Regions from separate parts of the Homo sapiens genome. Here region 2 is reported to be linked to region 1. Evidence: microRNA targets listed by miRTarBase, many of them from high-throughput screens and not tested one by one. Region 1 holds a microRNA gene; the other region holds the end of a gene's coding sequence.

Region 1 (3,098 bases):
GCCTGCAAAAACCCGACGGGGCACCCCGCCACCCCACCTTACGTTTCCCTAGGGCCAAGTCAGTGGTCAAAAACCAACCCGGTGGTAGCTGCCTTTACCAAGGAAAGACAGCCAGGACGCCCGCACCGACGGCAACGCGCGGACAGAGAGGACCGTGCCCTCTTTCGCATGTTACGGGGCGAGGGGGCTGTTGGCGTCAGGAGCGCCCTGGGAGGAACTTCGTAGCGGATTCGAGAGACAGAGGGAATTCAGCAAACTTGCTGCCCCGGGCTGCCGGCTGGAGCCCGGCAGATTCGCTGCGCAGCACTGCCCCCTGGTATCCAGCGCCGAAAGTGCCCCCCTCCGCAGCTGCAAGGCTCCTCCCTGGGCTGCGCGGGACAGATTTTTTCTCCTTTCCTGGCTACACGCCTAACAGAGAAGCTATCCCGAGGGACCTCAAGAAGTCCCCCCAAGCCGTACTCAAAAGCCTTTCTCCCTCCTCCTCAAGCGCTCACTTCCCCAAAGAGGACCCGGACCCCTGACTGCCTGAGCCAGGTCCCCAGCATGGTCCGCAACCCTTCTCGACTCCGGCATCCACCTCCAGGCTGACGTCTACCCGGGAGGGGGCTGGGGACCCAAGGAGACTTCGACTACAGGCCCAGGCGAACGGAAGGAAGAGGCTTGCGTTCAGAGAGACACGTTTGGAGCTGGGACTGTTCATTCTTTAAGGAACACCAGCTTCCAGGGCATCTTTCGTTGGCACCTTGGCTTTCCAGAGAAGAAAGGAAGTGGGTATCAGGGCCAGCCCCTCCTCGCACCCCAGGCTGGAGAGGTGCCGAGGTGCTTAGTCACTCAGTCCAAGGGCACCTGAGAGATGGGGGCAAACTTGGCAGGAGCTTGAGCACGGAGGCGTGATCCGCGGGGGGCGCAGGCAGGGCGGGGCCCAGAGCCCCCTTCCGCCAGCCCAGCCTGCCCCTTCCAACCCAACTTGTCTGGCACTGGCTTCTACGGGTGCCGAGAAGACTGCTGTCGTGGGCACAGGGTCCTCGACCCCAGGACGTGCGTGGCCTTTCCCACCCCAACCGGATGGTTTGTCCCAGGCTTTGAGACTGAGCTTGATAGAGAGGTAGGAAGGAAGCGGCGCCAGCTCCGGAGCCAGAGTGGGTTGGAGTCCCAGCTTGGCCACCCTCTAGCTGTGTGACCTTGAGTGAGTTACTTCGCCTCTCTGAGCACCAGTTTCTTTGTTTTTTTTTTTTTCAGGAATGGTGTGAGGATTGAGGTAATGTCCTTAGGATGCCCACATGTGTTCAGTCAAGGTCGGTCGTGATGGTTGCCGGCGTCCGCTGCAGGAAAGGCCCCCAGGAATCAGCTTGTAGGGTGGGCGCCAGCCGGTACTGCACAGGGGCATCGCGGCCTCCGGTTTTAGAAGGGGCAGAAACAGCGCAGTGTCCTCAGCCCTGAGGGCTGAGTGTTGGAGGTCCCGACGCTCCTGGGTTCTCTTCTGCCCGGGTGCAGACTACAGCAGGTGCGCAGGGCTTCGCACACCTCTGCTGTGGGAAGTGAGTCATCTTCGCTTATGATTGCATCTGGCCAGGCCAGCTACGAGAACACTGGGCCTCACAGCTGCCACGTATCCAGCCTTAACCTGTGCCAGGCACTGTGCTAAGAGCTATGCACCCACAATCCCACTTCTTCACAACAGCCTCGACCGAAGTAGATGTTTAAGTTTTTAAATTTCCATTTTACAGAGCAGGAAACAGACTCAGAGAGGTTAACTTCCCCCAAGATCACACAGCTGGTAAGTTGGAGAGCGGGGACTTGAACTGAATCTTCCTTGGAGGCCAAGCTCTGAACCACTAAGTTGGGTGGCATTAGAGAGCCAAGCTCTCGCCCTTCGGTTTCCATTCACGCTACCCTCTCTGAGCCGCAATTCTCTCTCCTGCGTTGGCACTGGCAGAAGTTGAGACACGCTCCCAGGAATCGCGGGCCGTGGCGCGTACTTCCACGCACCCCAGCTAGTTCCAGAGACTCAGCTTGTTCTGAGATCCTCTTGTCGAGCCCCCTTGGTCCCGGCGCCCGGCCTGTGTGGTGCTCAGATCAGACTTATCCACCCGAGCACCACGCAGACCAGCGCCTGGACCAAGGTCCCGGGAAGGAAGCCCTCCTCCCCTTCTCCTGTGGCTTAGCTCAGCGATCAGGGAGGAGCCAGTTAAGAAGTCACAGTCGAAGCCATGACTGCTGTGTCCCGGGGAGGCAGTGGAAGGCGAGGAGCACGGAGCGGGGATACCGCCGGACAACCCCTCCCCGCCGCCCCGTCGGCGTCCTCGCTGCGCAGGGGCTCCCTTGCTGCCCCAATCTAAAAGGAAGCCGTCGCGGCCCAGGGCACGGTAACTAAAAGGCCGTCGGGGAGGGAGACGGGAATGAGTGGGCTTGGACTTGAGGTTTCCGAGCCAGCTGCTCCCTAGAGCCGTTCCTGAGCTCGTCAGCCAGCACGTATTTAATGAATGGCCACTGGGTGCTAGGCCTTGCACGCAACCCTTTCGTCCTCCCCCGGGGCTGAGCCGAGGGTGACCCAACACTAGTCGGAACGAGCCTGGAGACATGGCGCCGGGGCTGCGCTCTGCAGGCCTGGCCTGGTCGCTCTCCACGCACCCCTCTCTCTGTAGCTGCCGCCCCGCCCGGCTCTGCCTGTGGGCGCCCCCTGGCGGCAGGAAGCCGAGCGCGCACCACGCCCTCGGGGCTCCATCCCCACTCACCCCGGCGCCTCTAGCCGCTCCACCCGCACCCCCAGTTCGCGCTGCGGCGGCCAGCCTCTTCCCCGACGGCCGACCGAATGTCCCTCAGAGCTTTCCGTGACCGGCCAGGGCGCGTGGCTGTCCGGAGCCCCTCCACGTTCCCCAGCAGCAGGCCCGGCTCTCTCTGATCAGCGAGCGCGGATGCCGGTCTCCTCCCTCCCTCTGCCGGGCTCCAGCCCGACGCCAGGCCGCTGGGGGCAAGCGCTGTGCTTTGGAAGAGGAGAAAAGCCCCAAATAAACAAAAACCCAAAGCCCATTCAAGTTCAGGGGTGGAGAACTGTTGGCATCTGAATTTTAAAAAGATCGCCGGGACTCCCAACCACC
Region 2 (3,098 bases), not on the chromosome of region 1:
CTAATTAAATAAGTTTTTAAAAAAGAAAAAAAAAAGAATATGGCCAATACGAGGGAAAGCAGAGACCAATACCATGAGAGATTCCTGACATCACTTGGGTGACTGTATTTAGGTTTGTTTTTTTCAGTTCTATGAGGCTGAAAAAGGGGGAGAGATTCATTGATCTGTATAGTTCTGTTTTTCATCAGCTAGTTTGAGTTGGGTTTCTGTCACCAGCAGCTGGGTGAACTTGTTCATTCAGCTGTACTAAACACATCCCTAATCAAGAAAACCTAATCATAAGATGATGAACTGGTTGCCTTTTCACGCATTTATTTCTTTGACATTTATTTATTGAACATGTAGTTAACTGGTCATAGGACAAAACCTGCATGAAAAACTGGGCATTGTTCAGGGTGATCTCCGTGAGGGGCCTGGAGTTCTGAGGCCACTGAAGCTTACCTAGTTCCACATGCAGCTGAAACAGAATCCTAATCCCCTTTTAAATAGTGGCAGATCCCTTCAAAGCATCCAGGTTTTTTTTCTTGCTCCCTCTCTGGAGTAAGGAAGGACACAGTTTGAAATTCAAGCTAGACTACAAAGATCGTGGAAGAATGACTATGACTATTTCTTTAACTCTGTTGCTGTAGAAGAATCCGTGTTTTCTTTCAAACCCATTATGGAAGCCTGAAAGAAACAAGGTCTTCCTGGCCTGTTAATAACTTTGTGCTACCTAAGACACAGATGAATTTCTTTAATCCCAAATTTAGAAGTTCCAGTATCAACCATGCAAATAAAACACCTGATCATGGTTGCTTTGAGAAAGGAGAGTTTTAAGCAGTGGGGCTGCAGCACCAACAAAAATCAGTCCCTGTACTTCATGAGTTCCCTGCCAAGAGCCCCCTTTATTAATGAACAAGCCCTGGGAATGGGGCCTCTATTTTTTTCACAAAATACACCAAATAATGTGACTAACAGGAGACTTGGGGGATAGAAAGGTATTCTGATGCCCACAAGCATGGTGCCGCAATGTCACATTCTTGTCATTTTTACTGCCCCTCTCTCGTCTGCTACTATGTTTAGACCCTCCAGAAGAAAAATGCAGTTTCATTTTTCATATCTAAACCCCATACTTTCTGTTCCATGCCTTCCTCAAGTAAAGTGGCCCTTTTCATCACACATTCACAATCATGCACATATTCACAAAGTACTTGCCCAGATAGTGCATGTGTATAAACAACCCAAAGACATATATAAATAAAACCAAGTATTGTTTAGGGGTAGACTTCTCTGTCAATAAATGGATGGTAGCTAGATTGATAGCAAGCTAGCCAGCTAGATAGATAGACAGACAAGTTTATAGATCTCAAAATAATTGACACACACATCTCCCAAATTCTGCTAATATCCAAAGTTTATCATAGCTATGACAATATCAGTCCCAACCAGGTTACAAGTTTGTTACAAATTACAAACTACTTAAAAACAGTTTTGAAAAAAAATATATCCCAAATATTAACACTAAACACTACCCTGGAGTTAGAAAAACTGTAAATGGGATGAGGAAACTGAGGTACCAGTGGTGACATAAGGCCTTTTTGTCTGACAGACTGTTTTCTGAAGTCAGTGTAGGATGTAGTCTAACAGACCTCCAGAAGAATAATTCTTCCAACTACCAAATCAGCACACTGAGACATTAAAATACTCAAATCAGAATAAGGACCGACCCTAAGTTTAAATGTGTATTTGGATTAACATTTTTCAGCAGGAGTGTATGAAGAGGGGAGAGGATACAAGTCAAAGACTGGGTAGTCAGGCCCCCTGTCCCTTGCAGAATCCCTTACACTCACCAAACAGAATATTAAAGCAAGAGCTACCCAATAAGAAGAGACTAAAGACCCCAACTCACTCCTTTTGTGTTGGGCAGAAGAACCTGGGCTGTGAGTCAAGAAAAGCTTCCCAGGGAAACTAAGAAAAATGTTTTAATTATGTAGCTTGCACATAATGGTACTCAAGGCACCTCCCAGGAAACATCTAATCCATGCTCAAGGATTCTGGAAATGCAAATTCATCCTCACAGGATCAATCGGAGAGCCAGCATTATTCAGGTATCACTGCTTTTCTTTCAGGAGGAGATGCAACGCGGGACATGAAACCTCCTGCCATTCTGCCTCTCCATGGGAGTTCTCCACATTCTCAAGGGTGGGAGAAGGGAGTGAGCCGAGCCAGCGACCTCCCATGGTGGTCACCAACTGGAAAACCACAGGACAGGAAAAGCTCCTGCGAATGGAGCACTTTTTTTTTTTAAATGTTTCAATCATTATCTCTTCTAGTCCAGTGTTTTAAAGACTGGTTGGCCAGTTCAAATTTGGATCAAATTGAAAAGTTGTCTCTAGGGTTTTGATACAATTTAGGGTCTTCTGTAACTTACAGGGTTTCTATTTTATGTTTATGGCCACCTAAAATTAGTTTTTAACTGATATTTGAGAACCGTAAACACTTTAGAACATTAAAAAGGAACTTTACCCAAGCAAAATCTGATCAGCTAAATTAGAGCTCAGTTAAATTAGAGATCAGCTAAATTAGCTGCAGGGATAGGTGGGTGTGGATAGCATCCAGGGCTCCACAGGCTGACCAGTGCCCCTGGGACTCATCACCACAGTACATTGTTTTAAGTAAGTTCTTGTTGTTGAACCAAGTCCATCAAATGACATAAACTCAAGCTGATAAAAGTCTGCTGCCCTCAGATTCAGTCTCCATCTGCAAGGGAACGTTTGGTGTGGAGGCCAGGAAATAATCCACCCTGTGTCTTCAGGCTGACTCCAGACACTCAGCATATTCTGCCTCTGCAATGGCTTCGTCTGCTGCTGCTACAACTGTTGCTGCTACCTGCAAAGAGATGTGTCCAGCAACTTCATCACTGGGGCACAATGAGCTGTTCTTCACATTTTAGTGTCCTGGACAGGAGTGTCATCCTGTGAACAGGGGAGGAAAGAATTAATTAGGAAAATGGTGAGGAAATCCTGACACTCAGCATCCCTCCTTGGGGATGATGGATCTGGCAATAATAGTAACAGTAGGAGTAATAGTAAGAATGATAGTCATAAGAATGCTATGTG

The links. Region 1 holds the annotated microRNA hsa-miR-3663-5p (GCUGGUCUGCGUGGUGCUCGG, at 2,091-2,111, opposite strand). A microRNA usually pairs through its seed, bases 2 to 8, with sites in the 3' UTR of a target mRNA and lowers its output. Matches are read on the target gene's strand: a 7mer-m8 pairs with bases 2 to 8, a 7mer-A1 pairs with bases 2 to 7 and ends in A, and an 8mer does both.
Region 2: the mRNA of RCSD1 is a reported target of hsa-miR-3663-5p. The part of its 3' UTR that is shown has no 7-base or 8-base seed match.

The regions. Positions count from the first base shown.
Region 1 is chr10:117,165,644-117,168,741 of GRCh38, forward strand. MIR3663 (microRNA 3663) reads right to left here and starts at 2,131; the gene lies at 2,035-2,131. The region is part of intron 1 of MIR3663HG (MIR3663 host gene); the gene reads right to left. RefSeq lists an enhancer at 1-504.
Region 2 is chr1:167,704,520-167,707,617 of GRCh38, reverse strand. It overlaps RCSD1 (RCSD domain containing 1), which reads right to left. Exons shown (of 7, transcript NM_052862.4): 7 at 1-2,954. The coding sequence ends at 2,922. Among named protein-coding and RNA genes, the nearest start is that of TRP-CGG1-1, 8.7 kb to the left of the region's middle. RefSeq lists an enhancer at 271-470 and a silencer at 2,052-2,346.